3 separate regions of the Homo sapiens genome follow, and regions 1 and 2 are each linked to region 3. Evidence: fine-mapped expression QTL. A gene starts in region 3. Each other region holds a variant in brackets. All regions are shown on one strand. Distances are between the middles of the regions.

Region 1 (8,192 bases), 290 kb before region 3:
TTTTCCTATTCTGTTAAACCAGATTTATAAATAAGCATTGCTGAGCCTCTAAGTACTCTCTCCTGAAAATGTATTCTAAGAGAAATTCTGACCCATCACAAACTCATAATTCTAGTGTCCAAAGCCATGCTCAAATGAGGTCATAGGATTTAAGTTCCCAGAACTAGACTTAAAACAATATCATTTATGCAAGGATGTTTTATATTCAAAGTGCTATACTCAAATTCTTTTTAAACTGACCAAGCTGATTTTGTCTTACTTAACCTTGTTACTACTTGGTCAAATCTCCACCACTGAAATATTATGTAAGTAAAGATCCAGCATTAGGAAAGTCTGCTTTTCACTATATAGTACTTCTAATTAACATTTTCTTTCTGTCCTCATTAACTGCTGCCATACTTATTTAGTTGACCACATCAGTGTCTACTATGCACAATACCATTTATAAGCCATTTGGGGGAAGGAAAGAAAGGCAAGTGCATTTAAATTTCCATTTCTGTTTATCTTTAAAGCTAAACAGTGGCCTTCAAGAAAATTTTTAGCTGTATCCAGTTCTGCAGGCATGTATATTTAGTTCCTGATAATATGATAGTTAATGCAAAGAAGCTTTTCTTGTTTCTGGTCCTTAGATGGCCTCTAGTTATGCCTCTCCAATGAATAAAATATCTTAACTTGTGGGTTTTAAGTGCTGGTAAAAAAAAAATTTAAGTGACACATTGATCAGAATAAGAAACATTCTTAGAAAGAAGAAAGATTTGGATACCATCTGTGTACTGGTAATAATAAAGCCCACATAAGCTTTCTTGGTAAGGTGAGGATCAAAGAGAAGTAGGAGAAAGCATAGTTGAGCACCCCAAAAATAGCCATTAATGGGAAAAGAGGGCAGAAAGAACCTGAAAAAGAGACACAAAATGAGTATTTTGAAAGGTCTGAGAAGGAAGAAATTATGGTGTCATTGAAGTTAAGCGGAAAAGGGTAGCAAGGAAGAAAGGAAAGCTGATGAAGTAAACTGCAGTAGAAAGGAACACTAAGGTAAAGCTAGAAAAGGGGCTGTGAATTTATATAGAAGGAATTCATTGATGACCCTATTGAGAATAGTAGTGGTAGAGTAAAATTATGAAAGTAAAATTGCAAAACATTAAGTTGGGAGTGGTGGTGGGGGACAGGGGGCGGGAATAGAAGTAGTTGTTTTAAACTAGACAATCAGCAAATTGAGATTTCATAGGAAGAAAAAAGGATTTGAAAATAGCTGGAAAAATTGTAGCGTCAAGAACAATTTTCTGCAAAAATAGAAGGGCTCTGATAATGATTACAAGTTATATTCAGGTATACCCTGTTTTATTGCACTTCATTTTATTAAGCTTTGCAGATATTATGTTTTTTATGAATTGAAGCTTTGTGGCAACCCTGCATCGAGTAAGTCTATCAGGGCCATTTTTCCAACAGCATGTGCTCACTTTTCTCTGTATCACATTTTGGTAACTGTCACAATACTTCAAACTTTTTTATTATCATTATGTCTGTTATGGTGATCTGTGATCAGTGATCTTTGATATCATTATTGTAATTGTTTTGGGACACCATGGACCGCGCCTACATAAAGTGGCAAACTTAATTGATAAATGTCGTGTGTGTTTTTACTGCTCCACCAACTGGCCATTCTCCTATTTCTCTCCCCCTCCTTGGACTTCTCTGTTCCTTGAGACACAATAATATTGAAATTATGCCAATTAATAACCCTACAATGGCCTCTAAGCATTCAAGTGAAAGGAAGAGTTATATGTCTGTCACTTTAAATCAAAAGCTAGAAATGATTAAGCTTAATGAGGAAGGCATTTCAAAAGCCCAGATAGATTGAAAGCTAGGCCTCTTGTACCAGTTAGCCAAGATGTGAATGCAAAGGAAAAGTTCTTGAAATAAATTTAAAAAGTACTAATCCAGTGAACACACAAATGATAAGAATGTGAAACAGCCTTATTGCTGATAAGAAGAAAGTTTGAGTGGTCTGGATAGAAAATCAAACCAACCACAACCTTCCCTTACCAAAGCCTAATCAAGAGCAATACCTGAACTCTCTTCAATTCTGTGAATGTTGAGAGAGGTGAAGAAGCTGTAGAAGAAACACCTGAACCTAGAAAAGGTTAGTTCATGAGATTTAAGGAAAGAAGCCATCTCTATAACATAAAAGTGCAAGATGAAGTAGCAAGTGCTGATGTGGAAGCTATAGCAAATTATCCAGATAAAGCTAACATTACTGATACAGGATGCTACAATAAACAATACATTTTCCATGTAGATAAAACAGCCTTCTATTGAAAAACGATGCCATCTAGGACTTCCATAGCTAAAGAGAAGAGGTCAACTCCTGGCTTCAAAACTTCAAAGTACAAGATGACTCTTGTTATGGACTAACACAGTTGGTGATTTTATGTCAGAGCCAATGCTCACTTACCATTCAGCAAATCGTGGGGCCCTTAAGAATCATGCTGAATATACTGCATCTGTGCTCTATAAATGGAACAACAGTCTGGATGTCAGCTCAAGTCTTTACAGCATGGTTCACTGAACATTTTAAGCCCACTATTGAGACCCACTGCTTAGAGAAAAAGATTCCTTTCAAAATATTACTGCTCGTTGACAATCCACCTTGTCACCCAAGAACTCAATGGAGATGTATAAGGAGATTAATGTTGTCTTCGTGCCTGCTAACACAACATTCATTCTGCTGCTCATGGATCTAGGAGTAATTTCAAATTTCAAGTCATTATTTAAGAAATACATTTTGTAAGGCTACAGCTGTCATAGATGGTGATTCTTCTGATGAATCCGGGGAAAATAAATTTAAAATCTCCGTAAAGGATCAACCATTCTAGACGCCATTAAGAACATTGGTGATCTGGCTGGGCATGGTGGCTCATGCCTGTAATCCCAGCACTTTGAGAGGCTGAGGCGGGTGGATCACGAGGTCAGGAGATCAAGACCATCCTGGCCAACATGGTGAAACTCCATCTCTACTAAAATACAAAAATTTAGTCAGGCATGGTGGTGTGTGCCTGTAGTCCCAGCTACTCAGGAGGCTGAGGCAGGGAAATCACTTGAACCCAGGAGGCAAAGGTTGCAGTGAGCCGAGATTGCAGCACTGCACTCCAGCCTGGTGACAGAGCAAGACTCCATCTCAAAAAAAAAATAATAAATAAATAAACATTGGTGATTCATGGGAGGAGTTCAAAATAAATATCAATATTAGCATGAGTTTTAGAAAAAGTTGATCCAATCCTCATTAATGACTTTGAGGTGGTTAAGACTTCAGTGGAGGAAGTAACGGCAGATGTGGTGGAAATAGCAAGAGAACTGGAATAAAATGTGGAGCCTGAAGATGTGACTGAATTGCTGCAATCTCATGATAAAACTTGAACAGATGAAGAGTTGCTTCATGCAGACGAGCAAAGAAAGTGGTTTCCTGAGATAGTATCTACTCCTAGTGAAGATACTGTGAATATTGTTGAAATGACAACAAAAGATTTAGAATATCACATAAACTTAGTTTATAAAGTAGCAGCAGGGTTTGAGAGGATTGACTCCAATTTTGAAAGAAGTTCTACTGGAGGTAAAATGCTATCAAACTGCTTCACAAGACACAGAGAAATCTTTAATGAAAAGAAGAGTCAATTGATGCTGCAAACTTTGTCTTATTTGAAGAAATTGCCACAGCCACCCTAATCTTCAGCACTATCACTGTCATCATCAGCAGTCATGTACACTGAGGCAAGACCCTCTACCAGCAAAACAATTATGACTTGCTGAAGGCTCAGATGATTGTTAGCAGTTTTAAGCAATAAAGCATTTTTTTCTGAGTTG[T/C]GGTCTCTGTTGCCCAGGATGGAGTGCAGTGGGGCAATCATAGCTCATGGCAGCCTCAGATTCCTGGGCTCAAGTGATCCTCCCACATCAGCCTCCTGAGTAGTTTAAACTACAGAAGCATACCACCATGCCCAGGTAATTTTTTTTCCTTCCTTTTTTTTTTTTTTTTTTAAGAGAGGAGGTCTCACTATTGCTCAAGCTGGTGTTGCACTACTAGCCTCAAGAGATCCTCCCGCCACAGCCTCCTGAGTAGCTGAGATTACTGATGTGAACCACTACACTCAGCAAGTATTTTAAAATTAAGACATATATATCTATATATTTATACCTTAATTTATATTTATAGAGAGAGAGAGATAGAGATAGAGATAGAGAGACATAATTCTATTGCACACTTAATAGACACAGTATAATGTAAACATAACTTTTATATGCACTGGGAAACCAAAAACTAGTGTGACTCACTTTATTTTGGTGGTCTGGAAAAAAACCCACAACACCTCCAAGGTATGCCTGTATAAAGGCAGAGAGAAATTGATAATACCCATAAGGAAAGGGAAATGCAATGTCTTCTCCTTTGAAAAGTAAAATCTTCCATATTTTTAGAGATCTTAATAGAGATTAAAGAGAAGAAAGAAAGGAGATAACAAAAACGAAAGAGGGAATTAACATTTTGGCTCGCTTCATTGTTATTTCTTCCAAACTCTGGTTTTTCCAAGTTGCTTCAGGTTCACTCAGATTCAACAAACATTTAACAAATACTCTGTGCCAGGAATTTTACTAGGTATATATCCTGAACATACATATCCTTACCTGGAAGAAACATTGTTCATAAAGCAAGGATACACACATAAAAGTGAATTAAAGTAACATTTATGTAAGTATTCTCGGATACATGATCTCATTTGCCTCTCAAAATAACCTAAGGAGATGGGGAGAGCAGGTGTTATCTTTACTACAGATGAGGAAACTGAAAATGAAAAAAAAAAAAAACAGAGGGATGTCAAATATTGCATTGTTAATTGAAACCCAACCCAAGACTTCTGGGTGAAAGCCAGGGCCATCTCCACTGAAACCTAAAGTCTGCCATGGATTTGACTGTGGATGTGCCACCCTCACTTTTTCTGACAACCTGGGCCTTGACTTAGAAGACAATGATACCTTCACCAACTTCATTTTCTGAGCTTCTCGTCAGATGTCGTGGGATGATGCATATCTGTTACATTCCCCAAGGACAGAGTGATGTGTGGCCATGATAACTTTATGCAAATTATAGCCAAGCAGCTCAGAGTTGAGAAACCTTAAAGACAAAAGGTGAGGAGGAGAAGAGGGAGCAGAATATTCCTTTTTTCAAAACTTCAGAAGATGATGATCCAGAAACTAATAGTACTACATATTTACTTTCCCATCTCTGTTGCCAGCTTTGACCTGCTTATAAAGGAGAAACAGAGATCACTTTTGCTCTTATCTGATTTGTTCGAATTGATGCTGATTACTTTTGTCTTGATTGTAATGCACTTTTTCTGCATCTAGGCTCATTTTGAGCATTTGTCATAACATATCTTTATGATGGATTTGTCACTACTTTCCTCATTGTTCCATATCTATAATACAGATTCTAACTATTGATAGGGCATTTTTCTTTTGGTTCATTAGCCTAGGAATGAACTAGGTAGTTCCAGTAATTAAAAAAGGGAAATCACTTTGCGTGTATCCCATAAAATATGAAAATTGTTATTAAATTATGAAAAAATATTAGAACTGCAGTTATACACTTAAACACTTTTCTGCTTATTAAGGTAGTTATTATAGTTCCTGTATTCATCTTTTACATACAGTCATTTACTTGTTTTCATGCTATTTCTGTGATGTAGGAAGGTTAAATATAATTCTCATTAATATATTTTTTTAAAGTGAGCTATGAAGAGTAACATGTTGATGGCCACGCTATCAGAGGAAGACATTTCCACTAAGATGCCCAGAATGAAGAGAGGGAAAAAAAAAGTCCTTCGGACTCTATATTCCATACTTTGTGCATTATAAAAAAATTAAAATGAACTGATATTATTATATTAATCTGAATTTTTATAAGTAAAAAGTTTCTTCAAAAAAACTGAATAAAATCGTATCACAAAAAAGTTAATAATAGATAATATTACTTAAGATAACAGCTTGAATTCGGTCTTTCCCTGGCAAAACTTCTTTTCCCATGTTATATTCTCCTATGCCTCTCCCATCTCACCACCATGTCCTCCCAACATTCCAGCACTTGTTTCAGTGTTTAGAACACTGTAGCCCCTTGGTAAATTCACTATTTGACTCTACATATTTATATTTCTGCCATCTTTTATTTACTTCTTACTAATTTGAGGGTTTATGAAAAGTTGATTTTCATAAACTTGCATTTAGTGGGCTTTTCAACACTAGACCAGAAATATTATGCAATACTTATTTTTACCCAAATCATCTAGAAATCTTAAGCCACTGAAGGAAGTAATCCATATGACCTCATTATGGATTTGATTCTATTCAAACTGAGTTCTATACAGTGGAAATTGTATGCAAGAAGAAGTAAATATCGCCTCATCCAACCCCTTCAGTTTAAATATGAGGAAACAAAGGTCCAGATAGGCTAACTGCCCTCCTCAAAACCATTCAGTTAGCACCAGACTCAATTCAACATGTTGTTTCTTGACTCCTACCAGTCTAATGTTTTCTTTTTTCCATTCTGCAAAAGCTGAATCTTCAATATGCAGTGTTTTTTTCTTAAGCTAAGTTACATCTTTTAGGAAATAAAAAAGTTCCTAAAACTCAATATACTAAAAGTATAGGGTTTATCTCATCTTTGCACTTAGTGTTACTAAGTTCAGAGTGTTGCTATATGATGATGTCAATAATGATACTAGATTATAGGGTCAATTTCCTAATCATAGTCTGCATACGCCCAGGCCCACCTGTAAATTTTAAAATCATGAGCCTGATGGAACTTGAAATGTATCTCAATATGTAAGGGTGAATTTATCATCACTACTCGGGAAGAAAAGGTAAGACATTGCCTACTGAGAGTGCCACCAATTTTTACACAAAAGTCAGCAACATAGAAAGATAGAATCTCACAGAAAAAAGAAGCCGTGCATTGTTTATGTCTGGAAATTATGTAGATTATTGGAGATGTTAAATTAACTTGATATTTTCCCCCAATTAAGTATAAAGCATAGATATGGTGGACTATTAAAAAATGTTTATGATATATTTACCAAAACTAGGACATGGGGTAACAGAGACAGCCTATAAGAATTGGTGAAGAACATCTTATGGCCTAGAATAGGATAGAAGATATGAGGAAAGAAATGAAGAGCATTGTTTCAACATTGTCTCCTGAACAGAGTAAACTTCAATTAATATTATTTGAACAAGATTAATTTAATACCATCATAGAGTCTTAAATACCACATAATGCAATCTTCAACACTATGAAAAATAATGATGTATATTATAAGAGGTCTGTATATCCAAATAATTTCAGAATATAAAGATGTGGCAAATGTGAAATTTCTGTAAATATATGCAAACACATATATCTAAATATATGCAAACACATAAATATATCTCTACCAACTCCCTAAATCCCACTGATAATGATAGCAAAATATAAAAATGAGAGTAGATCAGGAATTACATTAGAAAACATTAAAAAGTATTATCATCAGATTTGCTGAATTTTCAAAGATATAACACATATGGAATATAATTGACAGCAAAATCTGAAAGTGCTGAAGAACCAGAGGTAAAACAGAATAAAACCGTTAATTTTCCCACAGAATACTAAACTACAAATTATCAAAAAACATCTTCTCTATTTAAAAAAATGTGGGGCTTAACACCCAGGTGATAGGTTGATAGGTGCAGCAAACCACCACCACACACATTTACCTACAGAAAAACCCTACACATCCTGCACATGTATCCTGGAACTTAAAATAGAATTAAATTTTTTAAATAAAATTTACTGTGAGAGATTAGCAATGAGAATTTTTGCACATTAGAAATATTACGATCATAATTTAGCAAAAAGTAAAAATTTTATTTTGGGTACAAGGACAGATATCCTTTTGGTGAGTTTTTCACCATTGGGAAGATTGCATTAGATGTTATAAATAAGGGTTAACAAACAAAGAAGGTTTTCTAGAGAGATGAATTTGGTTTAATGTAGAAATAAACTTGAAAATAAAAGTGTCCTATTTTCACTGTTAATAATAAATACATTCAAATATGTTCAACGTATAACAATAGATTTATAAAAGAAATGAGCACCCTGCAGCATTAAAAATAGT
Region 2 (8,192 bases), 390 kb before region 3:
TAATCAAAGAAACATATCACAACCAAGGGAACAGAAGACTTGATCAGGTAGAAGAAAAAAAAAATGACCAACTTCAAAGACAGGTCATTTGAAATTACCCAGTCAGAGGAACAAAGTGAAAAAAGAGGAGAAAGCCAATGGGACATATGGAAACCATCCAGCAAACTAATATATGCTTTATGGACATCATAAAAGGAACAGAAAGAGAGAAAAGGGTAAAAACATATGAGGTCAGGAGTTTGAGACCAGCCTGACCAACATGGAGAAACCCCATCTCTACTAAAAATACAAAATTAGCCGGGTGTGGTGACACATGCCTGTAATCCCAGCTACTCAGGAGGCTCAGGCAGGAGAATTGTTTGAACCTGGGAGATGGAGGTTGCGGTGAGCCAAGATCATGCCATTGCGCTCCAGCCTGGGCAACAAGAGCAAAACTCCATTTCAAAAAAAAACAAACAAAAAAAAAAAACAGAAAAGAAAGAAAGAAATAATGATGGAAAATTTCCCAAATCTGCTGAGGGAAATGAATATTCAGATTTATGCAGCCCAAAGAACCACAAATAGATTAAACATAAAGGTATCTTCACTGAAACACACTATAATTAAATTATCAACAGTCAAAAATAAAGCATTCTAAAAGTAGTGGAGAAAAACAACTTGTTACATAGAAGGGAATCTCATTACACATATGCATATTTCTCAGTAGAAACTTTGCAGTTAGGAGACAATGAGATTATATATTCAAAGTACTTAAAGAAAAAAAAATTGGCACCCAAGAATACTATACCCTACACAGCTATCCTTCAGAAATGAGAGATAAAGAGTTTCTCAAACAAACAAAAGTTGAGGGAGTTCATCACCACTAGACCTGCCATATCAAAAAGTTTTTTTAAAAGTTCAAGTTGAAATGAAAGGATACTAACTAGCATGATAAAAATGTATACAAGCTTATAACTCACTATAAAGGTAAGAATTTACTTAAATTCAGAATACTATAATACTTTAAAGATGGTACACAAATCACTTTTATCTCTAGTATAAAATTAAAAGATGCAAGTATTAAGAATAATTATAGGTAGAATAATTTGTAAATAAATACATAATATGATACTATGTAAATTGTGACATCAATAACAAACATGAAAAGAGCAGTAAAAATGTATAGTTTTTCTATGCAACCAAAGATGTTATAAAATTAAAACAGACTGTTACAACTATGAGATGTTTTATTTAAACCTCATGCTAACCAAATAAAACAAACAAAAAAACACCTTTAGTAGATATACAAAAGGTAAAGGGAAATGAATCAAAGCATGTCACTGCAAAAAACAATCAAATCACAAGGAAGATAGCAACAGAGGAAGAGAAGAAGCTAAAGACAGTAAGAAAATTTTAATAAAATAGCAAGAGTAAGTCCCTCTAGCTATCAATTACTTTAAATATACTTAGAATAGAATGTTCCCAATACAAAGAAATGATAAATGTTTGAGATGATGAATATGCTAATTACCCCAATTGGATCACTATATATGAATCAAAATATCACTACATACCCCAAAAATATGTACAATTATTTTATATCAAATAGAACATTTAAAGAAGAAATAAAACACTTCTGGAAGGAATTGAGAAAAATTGGTATTATTTCTTCCTTAAATATGTGATGGAATTTAACTATGAAACTGTCAAGACCTAAAGTTTTTCTTGTAAGAAATTTTTTTACTACAAATTTACTTTCCTTAATAGATTAAAAAAACTATTCAGATAGTCTGTTTCCTCTTGAATAAATGTTGGTAGGTTGTATCCTTCAAGAAACTAATTTGTTTCACTTAATTATATCAATTTATGGGTACATATTTTTGTCACAGAATCCTTGGGGTGTCGCTTTGCCAGCAGGAAAACTCTGTGGTCAGTGGTGCCTTTGCCCACGTTTTGCTCTGGCCTGCTGGGCTTATTCCACTGACTCAGCCTGGCAGGCTGCACTTGGTTCATGCTACTGGCCTGGATCCCACACCTGCAAAGGACGAGCCAGGTGGTATGTGAGTGAGCATGGGGTCTGGCTACTGCGCACAGCCAGGCATGCCAGCTGCAGTGGGGTGGGCAGCTCCAGGCACTGGAATAGGTTTTGGCTCCCTGCAAGACTGCAGCTGGACCAGGTATACCATAACCAGCTTCTGTGTCTGACACTGGGGAATGCAGAGGTGCCCAGAAGCTTGGAGATGTGAGGAACCACAGAGCACTAAAAAGAGTGTCACACTCCTGGCTAGGGGAGCTCCTAGGTCTGGGCTCCCAAAAGGGCAGCAGCTCTTCTCTCCATCTCTCTCCTCTCCTTCTTGTCACCCTCAATGTGGCAAGCAAGGGGCATATTTCAGCTGTTTGGTTTACAGCTTTTTTAGCCCCACCATTCCCAAGTCCCTGTCCTGCATCCAAGAAGAATCAGGTGTGCAGACAAGTAGAGGGTGAGCAAGACAAAGGGGAAATTTATTGAGCAATGGAACAGCTCAAGAGGAAACTGACAGGGGCAGCTCCTCTCTGTACCCAGGGTGACCTGACAAGTGTTCAGCTCTCAGCAGAGAGGAGACCCTGGGGTGGTAGCTCGTCTCTGAGGCTGGTTGTCCCATTGTCTCCTTAAGTCTAGCTGAGTCCAGGGCTTTAGTGGGCCTCAGAGGAGAGGAAATGCGTGCTGATTGGTCTATGGGTGGCCACAGGTGGGCCCGAAAAAAGCACCACAGGCTCCCATTCTGGTCCATGGGACTGGCAGCCTGGTCCCTGGGCTTCAGGCCTTCCCAGGCTTTAGGGTGGGGCTTCACTGGGGACCCACCTCTTTCCATCCAGGAGCTTGTCTGCCTATTACTGCTGTTTATGGTACCCAGGCTATTCATGCAAAGGGGTACCTACAGGCCAGCTGCCAAGTTGCTCTCAGCCTCCTCCCAGTGCTTGTCGGTGCTCAAAATCTGGAGGGGGCTGAGGTTGCAGGGGGCTGGCATGTCAGTGCTGCCCAGAGCATGTGCACACCTGCCAGGTTGCAACAGCACCCAGGCTTGGCCTCAACTTTGCTCCAGACTTGGAGCAGGTGCCAGGAATGGGGAGAGGCCAGACAGCCAGAGGAGGCACTTTCAGGCCTGCAGGGATGGAGGGGGTTCCCACATCCCCAAAAGTGCAGAGGTGCCCAGGTCCACAGCCATGGCTTCAG[C/T]GGTTGCAGCTGCACCCGGGAGGGCAGAGCTACTGTCTGCCATGCTTGGTGGCTGCGTGCAGGTGGGTGCAACCATGATGAAGCCCTGCTTGACTAGGCTGCCCCATTGGCCATCAGAGGCTAAGGACATCAAAGCTTACTCCAGAGGGTCCAGTGTCACCAAGCCCCACTGCTGCTCTCCTGCTCCGTGGATGATGAAGCCACTGATGTGCTGTCCAAGTCACGTCTGCACCTGCTGTATCCTCCCTGGAGGAGCCTCCCTGGGCTGCTGTCCCCAAGACCCATGGTCCTGCATGGAGATGCCCTTCCCCAGGTTGTGGAAACTCTGGGGGTCTTCGTCATGGTGGTCCTGGAGAGCTTCCCTGTTCATCTATTCGCAGCCTGGGGCAGGGGCTCCAGGTCTTTGGCTGGGCCCAGGCTGGCGTCTAGGGCAGGGGTGACATCACCATGAGTTCTTCCTGTGGCCCCAGTGGTCCGGGGAGGCCCAGGGCTCCCTGTCACCCACATATGGCCCTGCCCAGGGGTGGGTGCCTCTGGGAGTGGATCATGGGCCCTGGGCCCAGCCGTCAGGAGTGTCAGGCTCGACGATCACCTCAATGCAGGGCAGATCCTGGGGATGCACTCTCCAGCGACACCGCACAGAGCTTCTTCCCGAGGTACAGGAACTTGGTGCCTTCGGGCAGGTGCTTGTGGGCTCCTGGGACGTGGTAGGGAGTGAGATGGAGGCTGCAGCAGAGGCTCCAGGCCTGGGACTGGGTCCTGCCCAGCCATGGGAGGGTGGGGGTAGTGCAGTCAGGTGCCTCAGAGATGAAGGGGCTCAGGGGACTCGTCTCTGCTGCTGCTGCTCGCACAGCTGTTCCTGCCACCTGCACCCCACTCCTCCCCATTGCAGCTGGCGTGCTGGCAGCGGCCACTTCAGAAGGCCTGCCACTGCCATCATTTTTACTTTCAGTATTCTCTTAGCATCATTTTAATATTTATGATGACTGTAGGGATGTTCTTTCTTTCCTTACTTATATTAAATTTAGTTCCTTCTCTTTGTTTCTTGGTTAGTCTGCATAGAATTTAGATGATATTATTGACCTTTTTAAAGAACACATTTTGCTTTCATTGATTTTCATTTTTTTATTCTTAATTAAATTGGTTTATTATCATTATTAAATATACATGTAATTAGATTAATTTTTCAATTAAAAGATAGAGTGGCTAAATGAATGAGTGAATAAGAAGACATTACAACTGATACCACAGAAATACAAATGATCATAAAAGACTACTCTCAACAATTATATGTCAACAAACTGAATAACCTAAAAAAAATAAATTCCTATAAATACACTGCCTAGACAGAATCATTAAAGAATAGAAAATCTGAACAAACCAATAATGAGTGAGGTGACTGAATCATTAATCAAAAACTTTCTCCTTCCTCAAAAAAAGCCCAGGACCTGATAGCTTTACCGATCAATTTTAACTAACATTTAAAGAACAACAAATACTCATCTTTCTCAAACTCTCCCAAACAACTGAAGAAGAAGGAACACTTCCAAACTCATTTTGTGAGGCCATCATTACCCTGATAGCAAAATTAGACAAGGACACTATAGTAGCAAGTAAACAAATAACCCAATTACAAAGTGGGCAAAAGACCTAAATAAGACATGTCTCAAAAGACATACAAATGGTCAAAAGATATATGCAAATCTCCTCAACATCACTGATCATCAGGGAAATGCAAATCAAAATCACAATGAGATATCACTTCACATCTCTTAGGACAGCTATTATCAAAAAGCAGAAAGATAACAAGCTTTGGTAAGAATGTGGAGAAAAGGGAACTCTTGTACACTGTTGGTGAGAATGTAAATTGATACAGCCATTATGGAAAACAATATGAAGGTTCCTCAAAACATTAAAAATAGAACTACCACACGATTCATCAATCCCATGTCTGGGTATATATCCCAATGAAATAAAGTCAGTATGCCAAAGATATATCTGCACTCCCATGTTTATTGCTGCATTATACACCATAGCCAAGCTATGGAATCAACCTGTGTCCATAAATTTTAAAAAATAAAGAAAATGTGGGGTATGTATTTGTGTGTGTGTGTATACATATGTATACAAGAGTACTTCAAAAAGTTTATGGTAAATACATATTATGAAAAAACTATGTATGGATTTCAATTTTTTTTTGCACTAAAATAAACATACGAACTTGTTATAACATGCCTGATCAGGATCTAGTTTGAGGCACTAAAAAGGATATCAGTTTGGATAAGTATTAATATAAGACAGCTTTCTGATGGTGTAGCTTGACTCAAGAAAATAACTCAGTTGCTAGAAAAGGAATGGTAATGAGGTTTCATCTCCAGGGCCAACTCTGACCACTTTCTTAGCCTAGAAAAAGAGCTGTACTCAATTATTCATGTCTGCCACAATCACAGGACAGGACAGGGAAAATAGTAGCACAAGTGTCATATACTTGTCCATGACTAACTAGAGCATGGGATGATCTACATATTCCTCATATAGTCTTCTGTAAATATAATTTATCTCATGTAGACTCATGATCAGGATTGGAGTACCCATAATGCCATATTTAATTCTCCAGTGAAAACATACAATGTTGTGATTCTCAATGCTGTGGCTCTCAATGGCTTGTTGAAGGTCGATCCAAAAGTTCCAGAGACCTACACAAGGAAGTGGTAAGTTTGAAATCTAAAAGTGAAACCTAAGCATCTAACTTGAAATTGCTTTTATTGTAACTTTGTTCTTTTCTCATTATATAACAAATATTTTCTGTGTTTAAACATTTAAAAAACAATGCAGGGAAGGATGGGAAAGGAAGAGAAAGGAAGGCAAAATACTCCAGGTTCCTCTTGTGTATTTCCTAACCTGGTTTTAGAAAAAAAGACATTTCTCCAAAAAGCCTTCATTACTTTTGTTGGAGAACGACACTAGAAACCAAGACCTGGGCTCTAGGCATGCCCATTGATACTGGTATGTGGTTTCCTATAAACCTTCTCAGCTGACAGAGCAAAAAACATGTGTCTGTATTAACCTGTGTATATAAATATAGCTATAAATTTTTAAATGTAACCATTTATATCTTTATGAAGCTATATTAAACATGAGTTTATACTAATGTCTTCAAGTGTAATCCATTACCCCATAGATTATTCTAGCTTCCTCCTCTTGCTTATATGCAGATTCCCACTCTAACAGAAACAAAGCTGTCCTTGCACCATCTGCCATCCATTTACTTAATTGCTCCATTGCAGTATACCTGCATAGCAAAATCAAAATTGTTAATCCAGACCCTGAAAAGAAGTAATTCTATTTACCAGAGTGTAGTGCTTACGTTCAGTCTCTTTCCTTTAGTCTTATAGACTCCACTTATTTCCATAAGTACTCAGGTCAACACCTTACTCCCAATCCCTTTCAGTGAGGATGTGTCATACATTTGTAATACAGCTAGATTCTTTAGACACTTTCTGCAATCTATACCTTGATCTCCCAACCTCCTAAATGTTCTTTAAATTTGCTACATCAAAATTCATTCTTTGTTCTGCAGTTCTATTGGTTTTGACAAATGTGTAATGCCTTGTATCCACCATTTCATATCATACAGAATAATTTTACTGCCATAAAAAAATCCCTTTTCACCCATTCAACCATTCCTATTTTCCTCAAATCTCTGTATCAGTTGTGATCACTGATCAGTTCTGTTTCTACGGTTTTGTCTATTCTAGAGTATCACATAATTGGAATCATTTAAGATATGTAGCCTTTTCATACTGGCTTTGTATATTTATTTACATACTTTGTATATTTATTTAATACTGGCTTACTAATATTTATTTAAGGTACCTTCATATCTTTTTAAAATGAATCAATAGCTTTTTTTTTTTTTTTTTTTTTTGGAGATGGAGTTTTGCTCTTCTCGCCCAGGCTGCACTGCAGTGGCGCGATCTTGGCTCACTGCAACATCTGCCTTCTGGGTTCAAGCAATTCTCCCGCCTCAGCCTCCCAAGTAGCTGGGATTACAGTCACCCACCACCACGCCTGGCTAATTTTTGTATTTTTAGTAGAGACGTGATTTTGCCATGTTGGCAAGGCGGGTCTCGAACTCCTGACCTCAGGTAATCTGCTCACCTTGGCCTCCCAAACTGCTGGGATTATAGGCGTGAACCACTCTGCCTGGCCAATAGCCCTTTTCTTATTGGTAAATAATATTATATTGTATGAATATACTACAGCTTATTTATGTGTTTGATAAAGATATAAAAATAAATTCCATTATTTAAAAAACTTTTATTTAAAAAATAAACATGCTGGACCTGGTAAAAAGTGTTTGGCTTTTTAAGCTCAAGGTTTAAAATAATTTAAATGCTACATGTTTTAATAATTCTAAGAATTATTTGAAGTTTCTATATATTATAAATCAAAATGCCTATAAAACTAACTGAAATGTTATTATAAATATGATTGTATTTTAAGTTACTAAAGTTCAGGTATGGTTTATTTCAGAAAATATGTCTTTACTGATCCAGAGATAACTGATATGCTCAAATGAGATGGACAGAACAAAGACCTTTAAATATTAAAGGTGTTGAAAAATATTTTTCCTTTTATGTGATACTTTAGTCTCTTGGTTTGAGGCTATGATCCTGGTGTGTTTGAACAAAGAAATAGAGAACTGGACCCACCTTAATTTAATAAAGGGTGGTTTTTATATATTTACAAATATAAAAAAAGAGGCATCAAAGAGGGACAAGACAACCCAATGGCAGTCAATATCCGCCTAAGAAGGATGTCTAAATGCGATGGAAAGAAATTCCAGTGGCCATCCAACCCCTTAGGGTCCTGGTTGGATTAGGAGATGGACCACATTCACATAGATTTAGCAAAAGAAAATATTTTGAGCATAATGAGAGCAAGCTTTCCATATTTCAAAGAAACTGTTTTCTGTTATAATTATTTTGTGAATAGG
Region 3 (8,158 bases):
ACTAAATTATAAATCAATAACAAAAAGATATCTAGAAAATCCTTAATATTGAGAAAGATAATCATAATTCTAAGTGAGCCATAGATCAAAGAAGAAATTAAAAGGCATTTGGAACTGAATAAAAACAAAACTACAGCACACCAAAATGTGTGTGATATAGCTAAACCAGTATTCAAAAGAAAATTTAAAGCACTAAATATCTGTACTAGAATAGAAGAAAGATCTCATATCAATAATCTTCCATCTAAAGAAATCAGGAAACTTAAGATCAGAAAACTATCATATAGAAACATAAAAATAATAGAAAAAAATTGAAGAAATTAAAGACAGGTTCTTTGAAGAAATCAGTAAAATTTATAAACCTCTATCTAGATGTATCGGGGGAAAAAATGAGACATAAATTACCTACATCAGATATGAGGATGAAAGCTATTTTTAACGTATATCCATAAATTATTTGACACTCCTACCTCTAGGAGTTGGTGCCTAATTTCCCTCCTTTTGAATATAGACTAAGAAACTTGCATCTAACACAATAAAGCAGAAGTAAATGTGTGTGACTTCAGAGACTAAGAGATTAAAGAGAATGTGCATCTTTATTGATCTCTCTGTTGTATCATACACTCAGGAGAAGCTAGCTGCCATGTGTGATAACAGTCAAGCAACACTATAAAGATCCATGTGGTGAGGAACTAAGGCCTCCTGTTAAGAGCAGTAACAAACTGAGGCCTCATGGCCAATAGCTATGTGAATGAGCAATCTTGGAAGCAAATCCTCCACCTCTAGCTTGACCAACTGGCAGCCCAGGACAGCTCTGAATGCAGCCCAACACAAATTAATAAACTTTCTTAAAACATTATGGGATTTTTTGTGATTTTTTTTTAGCTTATCAGCTATCATTAGTGTATTTTATGTGTGCCCAAGACAATTCTTCTTCTTCCAATGTGACCCAGGGAAGCCAAAAGATTGGACACCCTGTTTTAGACCATCAAAGTCTTGGCAAATATCTTGATTGCAAGATCATGAGAGATTTTGATCAAGAACTACCATCCAAGTTGTTCGCAAATTTCAAATCCACAGAAACAGTGAGACAATAATTGTTTTTGTTTTAAGCCACTAAGGTTTGAAGTAAATAGCAGCAAAAGATAACCAACATAGAGAGCATCATTACAGATCCTAAAGACATTAAAAGGATAATAAGGGATTATTGTAAATAACTTTAAGCCAATAAAATCAGAAACCTAGATGAAACTAACAAATTCCTTGAAAGACACAAACTACCAAAGCTCACTCAAAAGGAAAGAGAAAATCTGATAATAGAGACAACACCTAAAACTGATTACATATTAGGTCACAGGAAAAAGTACCAGTAAGTTCCATGGAGACTTTTTTATAAACAATACTGTCTAATTACAATACAAGAAAAATTAGAAATCAGCAACAAAATTAAAAACCAAAAAGGACCTTCCACGAGAAAATTTTTACAACCTATTAAGGTGCATAGTAAATTGACATCATATAGCTTCTAAAAATGGTGGTTATAAGGCTACATGTCAGCATCTATAGGATACTTTTAAAACACTGATGAGAGGAAATGCAAAGCCTTAAAAACTTACATACATAAAACCTGCTCACTGGCCAAATCTGGGACAATTCGAGGATCAAAATAAATAATGATTATAATCAAGTAATTTTTTTAAAAGTCCATGCATCCATTCTAATATAATTAAATAAATGAGAAAGCAGGCAATGCTACTCCTTATAATGAATTGCCACTTCATAAATATAGAAATGACAAGAGTTAGAAAATCATCATTTGGCAACCGTGATAGTAATAGTCGACTCAAGCAAAAGTCAATGGACGCTAAAACCAGAGAATGTGTGTGAAAGTTTGATGCCTCAGAGTACCTCCCCAAAAGTACTTATTAATTACAAAAGGAGACTCTGACAGATGATACCTTAACCAGGTGATCAAAGTTAACATCATTAATAATGGAACCAACCAGGTAACCTCACAAGCCTTGAGAAGGACAAAACAATCTTTCTGTAGTATCCCTGCCAAAAATGCATTAGCTGAATTTAATAGTGAGGAAATATCATCCAAACCCAAATTGAGATACATTCTACCTAACAGCCAATCTGTACTCTTTAAAAATGTCTAGCTTATAAAAAACACAAACAGACTGAGAATTGTTCCAGGTTAGACATGACAACTAAATGTAATGTGGGATCTTAACAACAGATGGTAGGGGATGGGGGTATAAAACATACAACTGTATCATAAACAAAATTTGAAATATGGACTCTATCTTAGATAATAGTATATCATTAAATATCCTGATTTTAATCACTGTACTGTGGTTATGTATGAGTGTGTCCTCGTTCTTATGAAATGTATGCTCAAGTATTTAGGGATAAAGGGGAACTACGCCTGATTTGACCTCAAATGGTTCAGGAAAATAATGTGTATACACACCCACCCACATACATATACTTAACAATGATCAGTAAAATGGAGAAAATGTAAACTGGTGAATCTAGGTAAAGGGTATACTGGAATTACTTGTACTGTATATCCTTGCTACTTTTCTGTAAATTTAAAATATATACAAAATATTTTTAGACACGTAAAATGTTTAAGATTTAAATAAACTGCTAAGGCAGGTACAAATTGGAATTCTAGCTATAGCAATGGTCATAAAAGAAACTTTCATCTAATCTCAATTCTAATGGGTGTACTTGTTTCCTAAAAGGCCTTAGCAGATATAGACATACATAACAGTATTTTGCCTAAAATTAGGTATAACATGCTTCCTGTAAAAAAAAAAAAAAAAAAGTAACTTAAAATTTTTCAACTTTTCTAAATGTTGTCTACAAGAGAATCATATTTTCAGCTAGGTAATTCAAGAAGAATACTTCTAATTGGAGAGGGAAAGGTGGATTAACTTTTTTCCATATGGAATAATGAATTTTTAACCTCTACTTTCTGTGATGGTCATATGGTAATTCCACATATACTCAAAGACTATGCGTGATGGTGGGGAAGTGGGCACAAGGTTGAGTGTAATGGTCAGAAAGGAAAAGTCTACACTCCTAACCTAAGGTATCCTGGTGCAATGTAAAGAGAAAAAAATCCAGGACTGAAATCACACAGCCTGCGTTTAAGGGATTCTGATGTGATCATCAGCAAATAACGTCTCCGGTTTCCCATACCTTGATTTCTTCAACTAGAAAATGGGAATGATGATTCTTTTAAAAATTTCTGCCTCAAAGGGCTGAGGATTAAGTGAACTATTTACCTGGAAAGCGCTTTGTAAACTTCAAAACCCTACACATGTGTTAGTATGTGTAATAAACTCCATATGAGAGGCCACTGGAATCAGCAAAGTTAATTAATTCCATTGCTGTCATGCTTCTCCTAGAAGATATTGTAACTGTGGGTGTACAGGTACATACGACTTGGCAAAGGGCCAAAATAAGGTTTTCTTCCCAAATGTTCTTTCTACAGGAAACACGAAAATAATTAGCCCAGATTCCCGAGTGAACTCATCAACATCCGTGGAGGTGGAGGGTGTTAAAATCGAGTTAAGGCAAAATTTACAAAAAAAAAATTAAAAAACAGTCAATTGCGGGACACTGAACGAAGAAGGAAGCCAAACTCGGGGAAGGGCTAGGGAGAGAGGAGGCGTGGCCCCAGCCCCGCTCCACGCCGCGCGCCTCCTCGCTCCCCATCCAGCGCGGCGACCACCGGGGTGGCGGCGACAGCGGCGCTTCTCAAACCTTTAGTCTCCCAAGAGCCGTTACGCGCCGCCCCTCTCAATCCCCACAAGTCTGGGCCCCTAACCTCCTAGCCCGTCACAGACTTCTCCGCGCAGCTACGCTGCAAGAGGCTCTCTTAGCTAGAAAGCAACCACTGGGCGGGTACCTGAGCCGAGATGAATCCCTCATACACGGTTTTCGACCGGTTCTGGGGCAGAAGCAGGGGGCACTGGCGCAACAGGCTCGCTTCCGTCACCGCCATGGCTCGAAGTCCGGAGAAACACAGAAAAGCTCTAGACCTGCTGGGTCCTGCACATGCGCAGTCCGCTGGCGCTCGGACGCCGCGGAGCGGAAACCCCAGCCTTGGCGGGAAGATCCTGGAGGATTCCGCGGGCGGAAATGAAGGTGAAGCGCAGGCCAGGCCAAGTGGCGCTCTGCGGGAGGCGACATCAGGGCTCCCCAACCGGTAGTGGGAGGGAAGATTGCCCTCAAGTCCACAGGACTGACTGACCAAGATCATTCTAGCCTCAATTGTCCCAGGAGCCCTTTCGATGATTCTGTTTTACTTTATTGAAAGACTGTTACAACTTTGGTGTTGCATTTCCTCCAGAATAAAATGACTTTTACAGCCTGGACGTTGTAGCACTCTGTCTTCTTTGCTGTTGTCCTCTCTCCCTTAACATACAGAATAATGTATTATTTTGTGTATAATTATTGTAATATAATGTATAACACATTGATTATATCATATATATTACAGTTCTGTGGCTTACTAAGTTCAATCAGATATATTTGAGGCACACACATGTATACGTATATGTGTATTGATTAGACTCAAGTCAACACTGGACTCAGTTCTGTGTACGGCACTCACAAATATATAAAGCAAAACATGAGTAAAGATTGCTGATGGACTTGAACTTAATTTTCCTCTGACAGCGCTTGCAATATGTTTTTCTAACTCAGGAATGTTATCCATCCCATCTTATTAAGAGTTGATTAAATAAGAAACCTACTAAAATATTTACCATATGATTATTTGATTTTCCAATTTTCCAATTTTCCAATGCATCACGTTTGAGCCCTACTATTTGAAAAACATCATTGTAATGTGCCAAAGGTTGAGCAAAGATTATTTCGTCCCCTACCCATCTTTATTGACCTCAAGACAGAATTTGACATCCTGAAGATTCTTAAAGTTTGACAAGAATTTGTCACAGCATTCTGGATGCTTACAGAAAAGAATGCTGGAGCAGTGGTTAGATATAAATTACATTAAAGCAGTGGTTCTCAAAACGTGATCCTAGAACCTAGCAACAGCATCACCTGGGAACTATGTAGAAATACAAGTTTTCACCGCTGATGGGGTTCAGGATATGCTACCCCAAAATATGGCCCCTTGACATTTGAGAAAACAACAAAACCTAAGATCACTCTCTGACCTTCTCCCATCCTTCTTCCCTGAGGCGGGTCATTGGATCCTCAATCCAGAGGTGCTCTTCCTATACCCACAGGAAAGAAATATCCTTATCTCTAAAGAAACGGAGACATAGAAAAGAATCTGAACAAAAAGACCTTTGACAACTTACCCCAGTTTATTACCATTAGACCATGCTTTGTCCAACCGTACTTCCCCACAACTGTCCACTGTTCCTTCTAAAAATGCACAGGTTTTCCTGTTTCTTTGGGCTTCATCTCTGAAGGCTCCCATGCCACATAAAACTTAAATAAATTTGCACGCTTTTCTCTTATTAATCTGTCTTTTCTTATAAGGGACTCAAACAGGAATCTAGCAACAGGAAAGAAAGATGTTTCTCATTCCCTACAGGCCCCTATTTCAAACCTCGGGAATCCCAAACACTGGCAATAGGGCTCAGCAGTCTGCGTTTTAACAAGCTCTCCAGGTGATTCTGATGCATGCTAAGGTTTGAGGATCTCTGCAGGGGCAGGACATAACACCTGCTTTATTTTGCAACTCGGTAATTAAGGACGGCCATGCTACATGTTTTCCTATAAGAATAAAGTAGAGGCTGTGCAAAAGTGGGATCAACACAAAGATTAAGAGAACATATAGTCCCTTACTTCAAGCACTTTATAATTTATCTGTGAATTAAGATCTTTATTGTATCCAGTATGTTAAACTTCCCCACCACCACACTTTCCCCCATGGAACTTCTACCCTTTCTTTAAAGTTCTTCTCAAGTGCTATGTCTTTTTGGAAAGCTTTTTTAATCTTCTGAAAATTATTGCTCTCCCTAATCATTTAGCATATTTCCTGCTGCATCGTAGGTGCTAATAAATTATTTACTAAATATCTTAATTTGGGTTGTTATAGCAGAATACCATAAACTGGATAGGTAATCCGCAGAAATTAATTATTTCTTAGTTATGGAGGCTGAGAAGTCCAAAATCAAGACGCAAGGACAAGATTTGGTGTCTGGTGAGGAGTCACTTCCTGGAACACAGTCTTTTGGCTGTGACCTTACATCACATTCACCTTTACTATTGATACACTGGACAGTGTGACCACTTGCCAAAAGCAGTTGGCTCCTTGATTCGGAATCCCCATAATTAGGTAACTAGACTTAAAGATTTCCAGCACGTTTATTGCTAATTTATCATCTTAGATTTTAAAGAAAAGACATCCAAGTCACTGTTATGATAGTTGAACTTGTAAATGAGCATTCCTTATCAATAAAATCTATAATTGAAGAAATCCAATGACCAAGGAACAAGGTAAGATACCATATAAAAACTTTTTAATTCAATTACTCGACTATTATCCTTAGGTGTTCAAGACTGAAAGTTGGATACTCACTACCATCATCAATTCATACGTGGTTGTGCTGGAACCATTTATATATAGCCCAGTTGAAGTCAGCCACCCCAAAATCCAAAAAAAAAAAAAACAAAAATGCTCAATATGTTTAAAGATCAGAAAGCCAAGGAACTACTTCTACCACCATCAGCATGATTTCAATTTTGGAATCACTCTGACAAACTGCACAAAGATCCTCATTAAAGTTCAAGTTCCACCAGGTATCCTAGGCAGGATTTCATTTATATACTTTGCCACAAAAATTACTACTATTTAAATGCTATTGCCTGAGGAAGAACTTTATATTCTAACACAGAAAAATATCCAAACATTTTGACAAATAAAAAGCACAAATTCCAGAATGGTATGCTTACTATTATAACATTTATATTCAAATATATAAGTAAAGTTGCTCTGTATTACTAGCAATGGTTACTTTAGGGGAGGGAGATGGGAACAAAGAATGGAGATAATGGCCCATGGAGACTTTTATCTTTTATATTTTAATTTTTTAAAGGAGAATTATTAGTCTTAAAATTAAAAATTAAAATTTAAAATGCTTATACCATTCCAATTAGCATCTGTTATCCTTATTTTATAGCCCAAATGTTTAGCCATGTCCCAAGAGTTTCTTCTCCCAGTTCCCACCAGTAATGGAAGAAGATAGGATGCCTGCCATTAACATTAATAAGATTAATAAAGGAGAGATTGTTTGAGTCTGCTGAGAAGAAAGATGAAGGAAGAGACTTGCGAAATGTGAAAATAAAGGGAAAATGAAAATTAGGGGAAAGTGAAGGAAGAATAGCCATTTAAAAGAGTTTTCAAAAAAACTGGAAAAGCAAGCCAATAATATCCTATTCTCTGTGGCACTGTGTCATAGAATGGAAAAGACAGCAGATAGTCAAGATTAAGGCATGATCAGGAGTGTAAAATGCTACCTAAAGGTTGAAAAAACTGAGAATTATAGAGAGGCCTTTGGATTTGATCACGCAAAAGCATTTATTAATTTGAAAGATCAGTTTGCTCTTGCCTGTTTTTCTATCCATGCACTAAACAGCAGTTTATAAATTGCGATGTAGTGAATAATTTTTCAGCCTTGAAAAGACCATATCCATAAGAAATAAACTACAAAGACTTAATTATGTGACCAAAGTCTGGTAGGGTGATATATGGAGAAGACAACCTGGCTCCTATAACCCTACCCCAACTCTTTTGGAGCACACTCCCTTGGTAGGTAGGTTTTACCAATAATGAGTCTAGATCCATTGCAGGTACAGAATAACAATTTCTGCTTCACTCTGGGCTGTAGACTTGAGGAGCAATGGTACCCACAACCCAACTACAGGTAAACAAAAGACCATTTAAGGGTTAAGTCTGCTAAAAGAGTTGATGGGTTACAAAGATTGGGCTGGAATCAGAAGAATATTTATGGGGTCATCATCTAAAGAAAGGATAAGAATGTAAACGGGCCGTTTAAAAGTATAGAAGAATCCAGATTATTAAACAACCCTCTTCTTAGCAAAGCACGAAGACCCTCTTCCCAAGAAACACCATCCCCACACCCAGTGAAAGCCACTGATT

Which allele goes with the higher level. Alleles are on the strand shown, and positions count from the first base shown. SD is a standard deviation of normalised expression in the study named. Not every link is listed here.
With allele T in place of C in region 1, the expression in monocytes of the gene that starts at base 4,033 in region 3 is higher (large effect, 0.87 SD a copy in BLUEPRINT).

Evidence for each region. PIP is the estimated chance that this variant, and not a neighbour inherited with it, causes the effect.
Region 1: its variant is the best candidate, but not a certain one, in a credible set for the expression of FANCL in monocytes (BLUEPRINT, PIP 0.55).
Region 2: its variant is the best candidate, but not a certain one, in a credible set for the expression of FANCL in whole blood (INTERVAL, PIP 0.63).

The regions. Positions count from the first base shown.
Region 1 is chr2:57,947,914-57,956,105 of GRCh38, forward strand. It overlaps a transcript of VRK2 not described here. Among named protein-coding and RNA genes, the nearest start is that of VRK2, 95 kb to the right of the region's middle. The variant T/C (reference allele first, on the strand shown) is at 3,859.
Region 2 is chr2:57,846,872-57,855,063 of GRCh38, forward strand. No RefSeq gene overlaps it. Among named protein-coding and RNA genes, the nearest start is that of VRK2, 200 kb to the right of the region's middle. The variant C/T (reference allele first, on the strand shown) is at 3,194.
Region 3 is chr2:58,237,293-58,245,450 of GRCh38, forward strand. It overlaps FANCL (FA complementation group L), which reads right to left and starts at 4,033. Exons shown (of 14, transcript NM_018062.4): 1 at 3,926-4,033. The coding sequence starts at 4,021. RefSeq lists a silencer at 3,631-3,680 and an enhancer at 4,221-4,380.